Linked DNA regions of Homo sapiens: region 1 is linked to region 2. Evidence: fine-mapped expression QTL. Tissue or cell type: lung. Region 2 holds a variant in brackets; the other region holds the start of a gene. All regions are shown on one strand. Distances are between the middles of the regions.

Region 1 (8,253 bases), 25 kb after region 2:
TCACTATGTTGCCCAGGCTGGTCTCAAATTCCTGGGCTCAAGTGATCCTCCTGCCTCAGCCTCCCAAAGTGCTGGGATTACAAGCATGAGCCACTGTGCCCAGCCAGTCTTACTTTCTTTTTCTTTCCTTTTTCTTTCCATTTTTTTTTTTTTTTTTTGAGATGGAGTTTCACTCTTGTTGCCCAGGCTAGAGTATGATGGCACAATCTTGGCTCACTGCAATCTCCACCTCCTGGGTTCAAGCAATTCTCCTGCCTCAGCCTCCTGAGTAGCTGGGATCACAGGCGTGCACCAACACGCCTGGCTAATTTTGTATTTTTAGCAGAGACAGGGTTTCTCCACGTTGGTCAGGCTGGTCTCGAACTCCCGACCTCAGGTGATCCACCTGCCTCGGCCTCCCAAAGTGCTGGGATTACAGGTGTGAGCCACCGCACCTGGCCTCTTACTTTCAAGATGGAAATACTCTTAGGATGAAACAGCACTGTGAGTGGAAGAGGTAAGAGACAAAGAACCTGTGTACTTGATGACTGAATTTTGTTATCACACAACCTGACAGTCTCCCTTATCTCTCAATTTTCTATTATGGGAGATAATCATTTCCTTATTGTTCAAGTGAGTTTTAGTCAAGTTGTTTACAGCCAAAAGCATCCTAAGTTGCAAGTACTGAATTAATAGAAAATTCCCAATACTAAACGAAACACAGAGAATCATTTTGACTAGGTTACTCTTTGCTGAAATGGTCCCTGAAAGAGAGAAAACATTCAGATATGGAGAAAAGAGATACTTAATTAGAGAAAGGTAAAAATGTACATGATGTTTTCAGAGGCCAGTGAACGGAGGAGTCTGGCTGAAGTAGATGATTTATAAAGAAAATGAAACTAGAAAGGAAGGTAAATTCACAATAAGTAAAACCTTCAATAATTTTTCTCCAGTGGTTTTATAAAGGTGCATAATTTGGTTTCAACTTTATCTATGGTGTTTTCTTTCTTAATTACCCATGGATACATGGGTAATTTTTTACTTTTTTAGGTCCGTTAAATATTTCATTTTTAAAAGAGGTATATAATTCCAACGAAAGGCATTATTTTGGCCAACAAAGTTCATTATTATTTCCATTTATAATTGTCCAAGAATATCTTAATTAAAATTAACTGTCTAGACCAGGCACGGTGGCTCATGCCTGTAATCCCAGCACTCTGGGAGGCCCAGGCAGGTGGATCACCTGAGGTCAGGAGCTCAAGACCAGGCTGGCCATGATGGTGAAACCCTGTCTCTAAAAAAAATACAAACATTAGCCAGGCATGATGGCGCATGCCTGTAATCCCAGCTACTCGGGAAGCTGAAGCAGGAGAATTGATTGAACCTGGGAGGCGGAGGTTGCAGTGAGCCAAGATTCTGCCACTGCACTCCAGCCTGGGCGACACAGTGAGACTCCATCTCAAAATTAATTAATTAATTAATTAAAACAAAATTAACTGTCTAAAACTCAACCATTTTACTAGTTAAAAAAATAATTTGCCATTCAAAATAACATATAAACTGTGAAATTCTAATACCTCAGAAATGTACAGGTCAGCTTGTTTTAATAACTCTCCAATAATTAGAACATTTGAAGTAGTACCATCTCCTGTGACGTCATCCTGAGCTGTTGCTACTTTTGCTATCAAGGAAGCTGTTGGATGTTGAATTTGCTGGAAAAAGCAAGCAACAGATTTAAAAAGACAGGATGAGATAAGGAAGTAGGTCACCAAAAGCAAGATAACCTAGGGGTCAGTAGCAAAATTAAAAAATGAAATAAGCTTCATTCTACAAGTTTACAAGTTTTGTATTATCAATACCTAAATGTCAAGTCCAAAATTTTAAAAGTGACAGGTAATGAGGCCTGAACATTTCATAAAAGTCTTTGCTTCAGAATGCAATGACATTTCTAAAATAAGATTAAATCATTCAATCTCAAAATGAATACATGTATTAAACTTGCAAAGGATATTTTTATTTTTCCATAATTACAAAGAACATAAGGCAGTGCCCTTAAAAGATATTATTGATTTATAAGTATGCCTAAGTATACAAAGTATGTATAAGTATACAAAGACTTGGAAACAGCCAAAAAAAAAAACTTTTTTTTTTTTTTTTTTTGAGACAGGGTTTCACTCTGCCACTCAGGCTGGAGTGCAATGGCACAATCTCATTCACTGCAGCCTTGGCCTCCTGGGCTCAAGTGATCCTCTCACCTCAGCCTCCAGAGTAGCTGGGACTATAGGCGTATGTCACCACACTGAGCAAAATTTTTTTTTTTTTTTTTTTTTGTAGAGACGGTTTTCACCATGTTGCCCAGCCTGGTCTTGAACTCCTGGGCTCAAGCAATTTGGCCACCTCAGCCTCCCAAAGTGTTGGGATTACAGGAGTGAGCTACCACACCCGGCCAAAAAAATTTTTTTATTGAGGTCTAATTCAACAGTCTTCAGCATATCTCAAGACTGCAGTATTTAGCTCACAGCCTTGGCTTAAAGATACACAAGTTCTACTATGCTTCTAATTAAGGCTTATTAAGGTTTATTAAAGTCAGCAGCATCAGCTCACCATCTCATCGAGCAGCACATTGCCATCTTTGGTGAGTTTGATGTCACCTGCACCAGAAACAAGCCTGTTCAGAGAAGAATGATATTAACTTCATGTGGTAGGAAGACATTCCCAGTGCTTGCCACTCCATTATCCTTAATAGAGGGAACTGGGCTCGGAAAACTTCCACTGTACCATGGGAATATGCCATGGTAATTACCACCATTTGCAGCTCACAGAATCATTTCTCCCCAGATGGACAGATTATGGAGATTTCATTCCAAATGGACTATTTACAGGTTTAAAGATAAAAGCACTTGATGAGTTACGAACTGTGGTTTGGTCAAAGAATACTTGGAAGTCTACAAAGCACAAATTCGCAAATTTCCTGCAGGTTTTAATTTTGGTGAATGTTTTCATTCATTCAGTCACTCAACTTAGTTTCCCTCATCCCTGCATTTATTAGATCACCAAGTTCTATCAATTCTACTACCTAAATATCTCTTGAATCTGCCACCTTCTCTCCATCTCCACTGTTATCATCTCTACTTTGGATGGCATCCGGATATCTCCAAACTTAAATATACCCTCCACACATTTTTCTTTCTAAAAGGCAACGTGATTCAGTCAGTTCCCTGATCAAAAGTCCTCCAATGATTTTTATGTTTTCCATCATTTTCAAGTTAAAATCCAAACACAGCAATGACATACTTGACCTTTCCCAATATCTTCCCTGCCTCATCTACTTTTCCACAAGCAAATCTTCTGGTTCCCTTAATATACCATGTTTTGTTTCGTTTCTGTTGGATTTGCACCATTGGTCTTTCTTATTCCTGAAATTACTTTGCCCAGGCCTTTACTCCCTCTTCCAACTAGTGAAGTCTTATTCTTCTTTCAAGACTGATCAAACATGTTACTTAAGATGCTTTTCCTTCTGCCATCAGTCCCTTTCTTCAGCATAATTATATGCATCTATATATAATTAGCACATCCTACTCTACCACATCCGTCTCTACCACATCTCCTTAAGAACAGAAACCGTTATCTTGATCATTTCTGTGTCCCAACAACTGGTACCTAAGTGACTTATTTTACCATTAATATTATTTTGTTCATTACTATGAGGATGTGTCTCTCCTCTTATACCCTTTTGCCCTCACTGGTCTCTTTTCCTCACTCTTGTCTATAGAAAAGGGTGCTTAATATATACTGAAAAGATGAATAGATCTGAACAACCATAGACACGGGGTATTCAAGTAGAACTTGGATTTGACCCCATGCCTTCCTGGCTCCAAAGCCTGTGTCCTCTCCACTACAATACATTGCCATACAAAAAACAAAACTACTTGTTGAATTTATGGACCAAGGGTATACAGTCTTAAGGAGCAGAGGAGTTAAATGCTTTGTTTCCAATGAGACACTAAATTAACTGACTTTCTAACTGCATATGAACCTTGACGACAAGTCGGGGGTCGGGGAAGCGCCACAGCTTCACTCCCGGGGCCCTCTACTAGGGGAGGCTTTTCTCCTCCACCTGCACCAGGCGAGAAATACCCCCAGAGCAGGGATGAGAATGAGGGAAATCAAGCTCGCAAGAACATCCACAGCGCTACGCGGACGCCTGCCTCAGAGGGCGACAGGACACCAACGGGCCCCTAGCCGCGTAATGGCCGCTCCAACCGCTGTCTCACATTTTCATGGTGCCTTTAGGACCCAAGTTGGTCCGCAGCACATCCTGCAGCCCTCGGGCGGCGCATATATTGACAGCCAAAGCTGCCCGGGCCCGCGCCACCTCAGCCTTGGAGTTGACGGCCTTTATCGCAGCCATAGCCTAACCGTTCAGAGGGAGAAAAAAAAAAAGCCTTAGTCGCGATTCTGAGCAAAAACGGCAATGCGACGCCACGCTCTCTTGAGCCTCGGCCAATCATCGCCCTTACAGGAAGTGACGTTATCATGCCTCGCCCGACGGAAACCAGAATCGTTTTGGGTCTGGTCGCCAAGATGGCGTCCTCCGCCTCCGCCCGGACTCCGGCAGGGAAGCGAGTGATAAATCAGGAAGAATTGCGGCGGTTAATGAAGGAGAAGCAGCGTCTGAGCACCAGTCGGAAACGGATAGAATCTCCATTCGCGAAGTACAACCGTTTGGGGCAGCTGAGTTGTGCCCTGTGTAACACTCCGGTTAAGAGCGAGCTCCTGTGGCAGACTCACGTCCTGGGAAAGCAGCACCGAGAGAAAGTGGCCGAGCTGAAAGGCGCGAAGGAAGCCAGCCAGGGTTCGTCCGCCAGTTCAGCGCCTCATTCCGTCAAGAGGAAAGCGCCGGACGCAGACGACCAAGATGTCAAGAGAGCGAAGGCCACCTTGGTGCCTCAGGTACAGCCCTCCACATCTGCGTGGACCACCAACTTTGACAAAATAGGAAAGGAGTTCATTAGAGCGACTCCCAGTAAGCCTTCAGGACTCAGTTTACTCCCCGATTATGAAGATGAGGAGGAGGAGGAAGAGGAGGAGGAAGGAGATGGAGAAAGAAAAAGGGGGGACGCCAGCAAGCCGCTCTCCGACGCACAGGGCAAGGAGCACTCAGTTTCCTCTTCACGGGAGGTAACAAGTAGTGTGCTGCCAAACGATTTCTTTAGTACTAATCCTCCCAAGGCCCCCATAATTCCTCATTCAGGGTCAATTGAGAAAGCAGAAATACATGAAAAAGTGGTGGAAAGGAGAGAAAACACCGCGGAAGCGTTACCGGAAGGTTTTTTTGACGACCCTGAGGTAGATGCAAGAGTACGAAAGGTTGATGCTCCAAAAGATCAGATGGACAAAGAGTGGGACGAATTCCAAAAAGCCATGAGGCAGGTCAACACTATTTCCGAAGCCATAGTTGCCGAAGAGGATGAGGAGGGACGGTTGGACCGCCAGATTGGGGAGATCGATGAGCAGATAGAGTGTTACCGACGGGTGGAAAAGCTACGGAATCGCCAGGATGAAATAAAAAATAAACTTAAAGAAATCCTGACCATAAAAGAACTGCAGAAAAAGGAAGAAGAGAATGCTGACAGCGATGATGAGGGGGAACTACAGGATTTGTTGTCTCAGGATTGGAGGGTGAAAGGGGCATTGTTATAGGGTTTTAAAGACCCAAGGTTTCTAACAGCCTCTGCTGTTGTATAAAAAGTGCTGTCTCTCAGTAGTATAGCGGTTACTTCATGCCTCAAGATTTGGGTACCTGGATTGCTAAACTGGATTGTTGAGATAAAATGAGCCAGTGAGCTACAGCACTTTGGAAAATTTGTGTAACATGTTTTTGAGGTAAAGTTGTTTTTGAAATTTCTGAAGTGTTATATACCAAAATGCCAACATTTCCACGACAGACTTAACTGTATAATTTCGTTGTAAAATCTGTAAGTTGTAAATATTGTACATAGTTAAATCTGTATTCTGTTTTGAATTTTTTTAATTAATAGAAAGACCAACCGGCAAACTTTCAGATGAATGCTTACTGTGGTATTTGGAATGTATGTATCTTCTGAACCCTACATCAAGTTGAAAAGGTTTGTTTTCTTGTTTCTTTGGTTTTTGTATGGTTTTTTAGAACACTTCATAAACACATAAGTCATTGTAGGTTAATCAGTTCTCTTAGTGTGCTTTATTTTAAAAACATAAGAAAACTATATGCCAAACATGACCAAACCAATGATGGTCAGATGTGGTTGCACATGAGAGTCACCTATGAAGCATTAAAATAATTAAAGTGTCTGAGGCCTTCCCCTTCAATAAATCTGGGATTGGGCCCAGGCAACTGTGTTTTTTAAGCACCCAGGTTATTCTAATATATGCCAGGGTTAGAGAGTAACTGCCCTAAATCCAGAACCCATTTATGTTTTTCAGGTTTTTTCTTTTTCTTTAAATAACACATTCCATAAATTTGCTGTTTCTTGAATGAAGGAAAAAATATTATCTTTTATTTATTTCATCCAGCCTTAAATTTTGTTATTTGGTGGTAAATTAGGGTTCCTTGTTTGCAGGTCCTATCTATTGTAGAAAGAATATTTAAGTTGTCTTTCCAGCAGTAACAATTGGCTCTTGCTGGTCATTGATAGTTTAAATCACTCCTTCCTTTAGAGATTGAGGTACTCAAATAGGAAAAGGGAATTAGCAGTGTTCTGGAGTTGAAATGCATACAGCATATTCAAATAAAAGTGAGCAATAATAATAATAGCTAAGACCTATATATTTCTTAGTATGGGCCAGGCATGGTTCTAAGTGCTTTACATATATTAACTCAATCTAGTTTCCCTAAAGTCTTTTTTTATGGAGAGGAGTACCAAGAGACAAGGTTTGAAAAGCCTTGAATGCTAAGTGAAAATTTTTGATGAAGTTCATATGAAAATGGAGGTTTTGAGCAAAGAATTACATCTGCAAAGAAGTATCATGGGACATTATTAACAGTATATAGAATGGAATGAACACGGAGGGTAGAAGGAAGCTAGGAGCTATTTGAAAACTATATTTTCAAAAGCAAGGTGACAAGACTGATTAGCTGAGGATTGGGAGAAAAGGAATAGAAGTGAAAGCATGTCATAGGAATAGCTAAATTCTTTTGTTGTTTGTTTTTTTTGTTTGTTTGTTTTGAGACGGAGTCTCGGTCTGTCGCCCAGTCTGGAGTGCAGTGGCGGAAACTCGGCTCACTGCAAGCTCCACCTCCCAGGTTCACGCCGTTCTCCTGCTTCAGCCTCGCGAGTAGCCGGGACTACAGGCACCCGCCACCACGCCAAGCTAATTTTTTGTATTTTTTAGTAGAGACGGGGTTTCACCGTGTTAGCCAGGATGGTCTCAATCTCCCGACCTCGTGATCTGCCCACCTCGGCCTCCCAAAGTGCTGGGATTACAGGCGTGAGCCACCACGCCCGGCCAGAATAGCTAAATTTTAGTGACTAGAAGTGGAAGAAGAAAAACAGGAGGGATAAGTATGGGATTCAAGATTTTGTTTGTATTTAGTGTCACTGCCTAAAAGGAGTTATCTAACACTTACTGAACAGTTGCTGTGTACCACAAATTATTATTAATAATTGTCCTGCTGCCTTTGGCAGTCTTCCTCCTTGAGCTGCTAGCTGATCAGTGATAGCAGCTTCTATTTGATGAGACACGGCTTGCTTGCCTCAAATGTGTGAACCCAGTGTTACTCAGAATTTTCCCTTCATTCATCACTATTACTCTAGCAAGAAAGTACAAATATGGGTTTGAATGGTGGGCCCAGTACTGCCTTGGCCAACAATCTAGTGGAGTACTGTCCACTAAAGATAAAATGCGACTGGGTGTGGTGGCTCATGCCTGTAATCCTAGCACTTTGGGAATCCGAGGCAGGTGGATCACTTGAGCTCAGAAGTTCAAGACCAGCCTGGGCAACATGGCAAAACCCCATCTCTACAAAAAATATAAACAAATAATCCAGGTGTGGCATTCACCTGTAGTCCCAGCTGCTTGGGATGCTGAGGTGGGAGGATCACCTGTGCCAGGGAAGGTGGCGGTTGCAGTGAGCTGTGATTGTGCCACTGCACTCCCTCATGGGTGACAGTGTGACCCTGTCTCAAAAAGTAAAAAAATAAAATATAATGCAAGCCATAGATAAATTTTACATTTTCTAGTAGCCAAAGTAAAAAGAAGTGAAAGTAGTTTTAATGTGTTTTATTTCATCTA
Region 2 (8,253 bases):
CCTGTCTACTCCATTAACTATCAGATAATATGGGCAATTTGTAATTAAACACCTTTATGTCTAAGCAGTTGTTATTTGGCCGAAAGGGTAGTTGTACCTTGGGAATAATGAGTAAGGCATCAGCAAAAGCTTGGACTCCAAGACGAGCTCTTCCTTTTATACTGTTCTTATATGTAACAAGAGCTTCAGCCATTGCCACTTCAATTGCACCAGCTCCAGGAACCATACAACCTATTGGAGAGAAAAAATATGATTGGCAAGACATGCCATAAAGACCAAAAGAGAGAGAGAGACAGAAAAGCAATTCACTATTTAAGTATGTTCTATTATCTACAGAAACCAAATAAATTGCACAGCTTAGTAATTACTCAGTTATCTTATGAAACATCCTGAAGTTATATGTCATTAAATAAATAGGCATAGTACAGATAACTGGCTGCAAACAGCTTATTTTGCTCCTTACCCTCTGGTAAACAAGAATAATTTATTTTTACCTTCATCTTACTCTTTTATAACTACTTTTTTTTTCTGAGATGGAGTTTTACTCCATCACCCAGGCTGTACTGTAGTGGCATGATCTTGACTCACTCCAACCTCTGCCTTCCAGGTTCAAGTGATCCTCCTACCTCAGCCTTCTAAGTAGCTGGAATTACAGGCGTGCACCACCACACCCAGCTAATTTTTGTATTTTTAATAGAGATGGGGTTTCACCACGTTGGCCAGGCTGGTCTTGAACTCCTGACTTCAAGTGATCCACCCACCTCCGTCTCCCAAAATGCTGGGATTACAGGTGTGAGCCACCACACCCGGCCTTATGACTACTTTTAAGAGGTATTTATAATTTATATTGACAGGTAACTGATTACAATATCTGACATGAAAATTCTTTAGACCAAGATCATTTGTCTAGTTTTTGATAGGGAATTCTTGGAACTCAATGAAGTATTTGTTTTTTGTACTGCAGCAGAACTCAAACTGCTATCTAAGAAAAAATTTAAGTGGTATTATTCTAAAGCAAGAGTTTTGGTTAAACACATCAAATTTCACATCAGGATATCACTTTTATATCTGCTACTTGTATGGTTTCATAAAGTTTATGACTCTTATTTAAATCAGAAAACTTGCTTTAAAACAAAACAATACGAAAACAATCTCCCCTTTTATCTCACATCATTTTAAAATTACTACCCCCTTTCACTGCTTCACTTCACAACATAACCGCTCAAAGAGTTGTTTACCCACCAGATGATTACATCATTACCTCCCATTCACATTTTTTAAAAGTTCCTTGTTAAATACAGAATATACTCAAAAGAATATTTATATGTATGATATAAAGAATAAATGCACAAATAAACAAATGTATCCATGTACCTACCACCCAGCTTAAGAAAGAGATTACTAGAACCTTTGAAAACTTCCCTGATCCCATTCTCTGTGAAAACACAACATATCAAAATTTTAGCATCCCTAAAGCAGTACTTAAAGAGAAATTTATATCACGAAACACCTATATTAGGAACGAAGAAAGTTCTCAAACTAATGACCCCAGCTTCCACCTTAAGAAACTAGAAAAGGACAGGGTCTGGTGGCTCGCTCCTATAATCCCAGCACTTTGGGAGGCCAAGGCAGGTAGATCACTTGAGCCCGGAAATTCAAGACCAGCCTGGGCAACACAGTGAGACCCCATCTCTACAAAAAACACAACAATTAGCCAGGTTTGGTGGCACACACCTGTAATCCCAGCTACTTAGGAGGCTAAGGTGGGAGGACTGCCTGAGCCTGGGAAGTCAAGGCTGCAGTGAGCCGTGACCATGCCACTGCACTCCAGCCTAGGTGACAGATCGAGACTCTGTTTCAAAAAGAAAAAAAAAAAAAAAAAACTAAAAAAGGAAGCACAAATGAAACCTAATATAAGCAAAAGAAAGGAAATAATTAGGATGAAAGTGGAAATTAGTCAAATGACAAATGTCAGAAATGAGAAAATTTATATCACTACAGATTCTACAGATATTAAAAAGAATAACAAATGAATATTATGATCGACTTTATGACAATAAAGTTGAAACTGTTGATCAGAAGTTAGTAAACTTTCTGCAAAAGGCCAGTTAATATTTTTCAGGCCATACCATTTCTTTTCCAACTATTCAACTCTGCCACTGTAACACAAAAATAGCCACAGACAATATATAGACAAATGAGTATGGCCACATTCCAACAAAACTTTATTTACCAAAACAGGCAGCAAATCAGATTTAGCTCATAGATAGTAGTTGATGATCCTAACTTAGATGAAGTGGACAAATTCTTGAAAGACTACAAACCACTAAAGCTCACTCAAAAAAAACAAAACCTTTATAGCCCTACGTCTATTAAAAAAATTGAATGTGTCATTAAAAGCTTTCCCACAAAGAAAACTCCAGGCTCAGATGGCTTTATTGACAGTCTACCAACATTTAAGAAAGAAATAATACAAATAATACCAATTCTCCACAACAACTTTACACTTTCAGAAATTTGAACAAGAAGAAAAACTTTCCAATTCACTCTATGAGTACAGCATTGTTCTAACACCAAAAAAGATAAAAGCATTACAAGAAAAAATATACACAGACCAATACCCCTTATGAATACATATGTAAAAATTCTTAACAAAATTTTAGCCAATTAAATCAAATAATACATAAAAAGGAGAATACACATAGTACCATTATTCACAATAGCCAAAAGGTAAATGCAACACGTTTCCAATAATAGACAAATAAAATGTGGTATATACATACAATAGAATATTATTCAATGGTAAAAAGGAAGGAAATTCTGGCACATGCTACAACATGAATGAGCCTTGATGACACTATGCAAAGTGAAATAAGCCAGACAAAGGACAAAAACTGTATGATTCCAATTATATGAGATACATAGAGTAAACTCATAGAGACAGAAAGTAGAATGGTGGTTACCCAGGGCTGGGGAGGTGGGTAGGGAATGGAGAGATATTGTTTAATGGGTTCAGAGTTTCAGTTTTGCAAGGAAAAAAAGTTCTGGAGATGGGTGGTGATAATGGTTAGACAACATTGTGAATGCACTTACTAACACTGAACTGTACACTTAAAAATTGTTAAACTGTAAAT[T/G]TTATGTTATGTATATTTATCACAATTTAAAAAATAATTTTAAAAAAATGTAATCCATTAATTTTTTAAAAAGTAAAATGCATTATAACTAAGTATGGTTTATCCCAAGAATGTAAGGTTTGACATTTGAATCAATCAATGTAATTTACTGTACGAGAAAACTAAACGAGGGCTGGGTGCAGTGGCTCAGGCTTGTAATCCCAGACCTTTGGGAGGCCAAGGCAAGCAGATCACCTGAGGTCAGGAGTTCGAGACCAGCCAGGCCAACATGGTGAAACTCCATCTCTACTGAAACATACCAAAATTACCCTGGCATGGTGGTGCATGCCTGTAATCCCACCTACTCAGGAGGCTGATGTAGGAGATTCGCTTGAACCTGGGAAGCAGAGGTTGCAGTGAGCCAGGATTGCGCCATGGCACTCCAGCCTGGGCAACGAAGTGAGACTTCATCTCAAAAGAAAAAAAAAAAAATCATATGATCATCTCAATAGATGCACAAGAAGCATTTGGCATTTATTCTCGTGTGTGTGTGTGTGTGTGTGTGTTTTGACAAAAAACAACAACAACAAGAAGTTTTACTCTTGTCGCCCAGGCTAAAGTCCAGTGGCACGATCTCGGCTCACTACAACCTCCACCTCCCAGGTTCAAGCAATTCTCCTGCCTCAGCCTCACGAGAAGCTGAGATTGCAGGTGCCTGCCACCATGCCCAGCTAATTTTTTTATTTTTAGTAGAGACAGTTTCACCATGTTGGCCAAGCTGGTCTTGAACTCCTGACCTCAGGTGACCCATGCACGTCAGCCTCCCAAAATGCTGGAATTACAGGTGTGAGCCACCACGACCAGCCTGGCATTTATTCTTGATTAAAAACTGTCAGCAAACTAGGTGCAGAAGGGAGAACTTCCTCAACCTGATAAAAACCTATAGCTAACATCATACATAATGGAGAAAGATTGAATGCTTTCCCCCTAAGATCAGCGATGAGGAAAGGATGTCCATTCTCATTATTTCTAGTCAACATTATACTGGAGGTTCTGGCCCATGAAATAAGGGAGAAAATTTTAAAATATCCATATTGGAGAGCAAAAAGTATAACTGTATAGCAGACAATGTAATCACTTATATAGATAATTCAATGAAGCCTATAAGAAAGCTAATTGTGATTTAGCAAGGTTGCAGAATTCAAGATCAATGTACAAAAATAAAATATATTTCTATATATTAGCAACTAACAATCAGAAATGGAAATTTTAAAAATAGCATATACAATAGCAACAAAATACATAAAATATATAGAGATAAATATGGAAAAAAGTATGTGAGGCTCATATACTAAGATCTATGAAATATTGCTGAGATAAATTCAAGAAGACTCAAATAGATAAGATGATATTCATGAGTTAGAAGGCTCATTATTAAAATATCAACTATCTCCAAATTGGTCTACAGATTTAATAAAATTCCAATCAAGCAGGGTGTAATGGCTCACACCTGTAATCCACGCACTTTGGGAGGCCAAGGCGGGAGGATCGCTTGAGCCCAGGAGTTTGAGACCAGCCTGGGTAACAACATAATGAGACGTTGTCTCTACAGAAAATAAAAAAAAATTAACCAGGCATGGTAGTGCATGCTTGTGGTTCCAGCTACTTGGGAAGCTAAGGTGGGAGAGTCACTTGAGCTCAGCAGGTCAAGTCTGCAGTGAGCCATGATCACACCACTGCACTCCAGCCTGAGTGACAGAGTAAGATCCTTTCTAAAAAAAAAAGTTCTGATCAAAATCCCAGCAGCAGTCTTTTTGGTAGAAATTGACAAGCTGATTCTAAAATTCATATGGAAGTCATATGGAAATGCCAAAGACTTAGAATGACCAAAATAACTTAAAAAAAAAATGAGAGTTAACAATACTGATTTCAAGATTTATTATAAAGCTACAGTCGTCAGGACAGTATGATATTAACATTAAAATAGACAAATGCATCAGTAGGACAGAAAAAAGAGCACAGAAATAGAACCACACAAATATGAAAAACTGATTTTTTATACACGAGAAAAGGCAATTCGGTGGTGAAAGTAAAGTCTTTTCAGCAAATAAGACTAAAACAATCTGATACCTTTATATGAAAAAAATGAACTTGTATCCATACTTGCACCATATACAAAATTTAACTTAAAATGAATCACAGACCTAAATGTAAAACATAAGACTGTAACACTTTTAGAGGAAAATCTTTATGACCCTAGGTTAGGTAAAGATTTTTCAGATACCACACCAAAAGCATAATCCATGACAGAATAAAAATAATAAATTAGACTTCATCAAAATTAAGAACTTCTCTTTGAAAGGCACTGTTAATAATAAAATAAGCCACAGAGGAGAAAAATTTGCCAATTATATATCTGAAAAAGCACTTGTACCCAAATTATATACAAAGAACTCTCAAACTCAACAATAGTATACTAACACAAATTTTTTTCTTTTCTTTTCTTCTCTTTTTTTTTTTTCTGGAAACAGGGTCTCACTCTGACGCCCAGGCTGGAGTGCAGTGGTGTGATCATAGCTCACTGTAACCTCAGACTCTTGGGACTCAAGTGATATTCCTGCCTCAGCCTCCTAAGTAGCTGGAACTACAGGTACAGGCCACCACGCCTGGCTATTTGTGTGTGTGTGTGTAGAGGCATGGTCTTGCTATGTTGCCCAGGCTGGTTTCCAACTCCTGGGCTCAAGCAATCCTCCCATCTTGGCCTCCCAAAGTGCTGGAATTACAGGTGAGAGCCACTGTGCATGGCCAACAATCCAATTATTTAAAAGGGCAAAAGATTTAAACAGAAAATTCACCAGATATACAAAGGGCAAATAAACACATTAAAAGATGCTCAACATGGGCTGAATGTGGTGGCTCGTGCCTACAAATCCCAGCACTCTGGGAGGCTGAAGGGGGAAAACTGCTTGAGGCCAGGAGTTCAAGACCAGCCTGGGCAACATAGACAGAACTCATCTCTACAAAAAAAAATTAAAAATTAGCCAGGTGTGGTGGCATGCACCTATCGTCCAGCTGAGGTGGGAGGATCACTTGAGCACAGGGGTTTGAGGCTGCAGTGAGCCATGATTGTGCCACTGCACTCTAGCCTGGGTGACAGAGCAAGACCCTGTCTTGAGAAAAATATATATATGTGAGGTTTGCAGCCAGGCGCAGTGGCTCATGCCAGTAATCCTAGCACTTTGGGAGGCCAAGACAAGTGGATCCCTTGAGCCCAGGAGTTCAGGACCAACCTTGGCAACATGGTGAAACCTCATCTCTACCAAAAATACAAAAATTAGCCAGTTTCAAAACCTGGTCTCAAAAGAAATAAATAGATTAAATAGATTAATAATAAAAATAAAATTTAAAAAGACTTAAAGGCCAGGCATGGTGGCTCACACGTGTAATTTCAGCTCTTTGGGAGGCCAACAAGGGCAGATCGCTTGAGCCCAGGAGTTCGAGACCAGCCTGGCCAACATGGCGAAACCCCATCTCTACTAAAAATACAAAAAATTAGCCAAGTGTGGTGGTGTGTGCCTGTAATCCCAGCTACTTGGGAGGCTGAGGCAGAAGAATCACTTGAACCTGGGAGGCAGAGGTTGCAGTGGGCTGAGATCGCACCACTGCACTAAAGCCTGGGCAACAGAGGAAGACTCTGTCTAAAAATATACATATATACATACATAGGTGTGTGTGTATATATATATACATATATACACACATATACATGAGGTTCATATCAATCACAAGAAAGAGCTTACCATCTTCAATGGCATTTTTGATAGCACGAAGTCCATCTCTTATGGCATCCTTGACTTGTGTGAGAGTATGCTTATTTGGTCCTTTAACCAACAAGGTAACAGAGCAAGGGTTAACACACTCCTCAATAAAAGTGAACTTTTCTTCACCCTAAAGGGTGGCACAAAAATATATAACTTTAATATTTGATGTCATTATAAAATCAACAATTTATACTAGAATACAATCTTCATTTGAATTTTTCTTATCAAGCATAACTAAGGGAGTTAAGTTATATCTGAACTCTTAACAAACATTTAGGTAAATAAACTGTAAAATCTGTTCTGTGAATTAGATCTCAAAACACAAAACATGAAATAAAAGGTCAAGTAGTATTTTTCTTTAAAAAAGGGGGCTTAGTATTCACTTTATAACCACTGTTCATAGAAATACTCACTAATGTATACTCATACACAAGACCAGCATGTCCCAAGCAATCTACAGTGAGATCTTCAAAAGAATTCACGGCCATTCCACCACAAGCAAGAGAGAGTCTGAAATTACATATATGTCACCATAGCTTGATTATGGAGAACATTAATACTAATTTCTCAGAGAGAAGATATCTAATGCAGAAGACTGTATTGTTACTGTATTGTATTGTTTTGGGTTTTTAATTGTCTAATAAAATTGTCTATATTTATCGAGTACAACATGATGATGTTTTTAAATATGTATACACTGTGGAATGGCTAAATTGAGCTAATTAACATACATATTGCCTATGTGAGGCTTGATTTAGCCATTTGTGTGATAAGAACACTTAAAATCTACTCTCAGCATTTTTCAAGAATCCAACACATTGTGCATTCTCGGGTGGGTTTGCAAAAGATTTTTAAAAAGAACAATATATTGTTATTAACTACAGTTGCCATGTTGGACAATAGATCTCTTGAATTTATTCCTCCTAACTAACTGAAATTTTGTATCCTTTGACCCACATATTCCCAGTGCCCCTCCCCTCCCACTGCCCCAGCCCCTGGTAACCGCCATTCTACTATCTACTTCTATGAGTTCAACTTTTTTAGATTCCATATATAAAAGTGAGATCATGCTGTATTATGTTGTATTGTTTTGTTTTTAAAATCTGTTTTAAAAAGATAAAAACTTTCCTTATACTTCAACAAAGTTCTGCAGTAGGTTAACAACCTTGCTTTTTGACAGTTCAATTATTTACTGAAACTAAAAACAAAATTTGGATTTTTTTATGCCACTGTTTTGTTCAACAACATTTACACATAAGCTAAAAGGAAAACACATGGGATAGTTTCCATTTACTCTGTTAAAAACTTAGGATATATAA

What was found. PIP is the estimated chance that this variant, and not a neighbour inherited with it, causes the effect.
Region 1: it holds the start of CCT6B, and the variant in region 2 is fine-mapped to the expression of CCT6B in lung (TOPMed, PIP above 0.99). The same link has a PIP of 0.9 or more in atrial appendage, gastroesophageal junction, stomach, subcutaneous fat, sun-exposed skin and tibial nerve.

The regions. Positions count from the first base shown.
Region 1 is chr17:34,957,004-34,965,256 of GRCh38, forward strand. It overlaps CCT6B (chaperonin containing TCP1 subunit 6B), which reads right to left and starts at 4,457. Exons shown (of 14, transcript NM_006584.4): 1 at 4,254-4,457; 2 at 2,584-2,647; 3 at 1,557-1,691. The coding sequence starts at 4,390. ZNF830 (zinc finger protein 830) reads left to right here and starts at 4,537. Exons shown (of 1, transcript NM_052857.4): 1 at 4,537-6,774. The coding sequence starts at 4,564. The coding sequence ends at 5,682. RefSeq lists a silencer at 3,987-4,281 and enhancers at 4,001-4,050, 4,151-4,370, 4,421-4,500, 4,581-4,830.
Region 2 is chr17:34,932,270-34,940,522 of GRCh38, forward strand. It overlaps CCT6B (chaperonin containing TCP1 subunit 6B), which reads right to left. Exons shown (of 14, transcript NM_006584.4): 9 at 7,348-7,444; 10 at 6,914-7,061; 11 at 98-231. Among named protein-coding and RNA genes, the nearest start is that of CCT6B, 25 kb to the right of the region's middle. The variant T/G (reference allele first, on the strand shown) is at 3,135.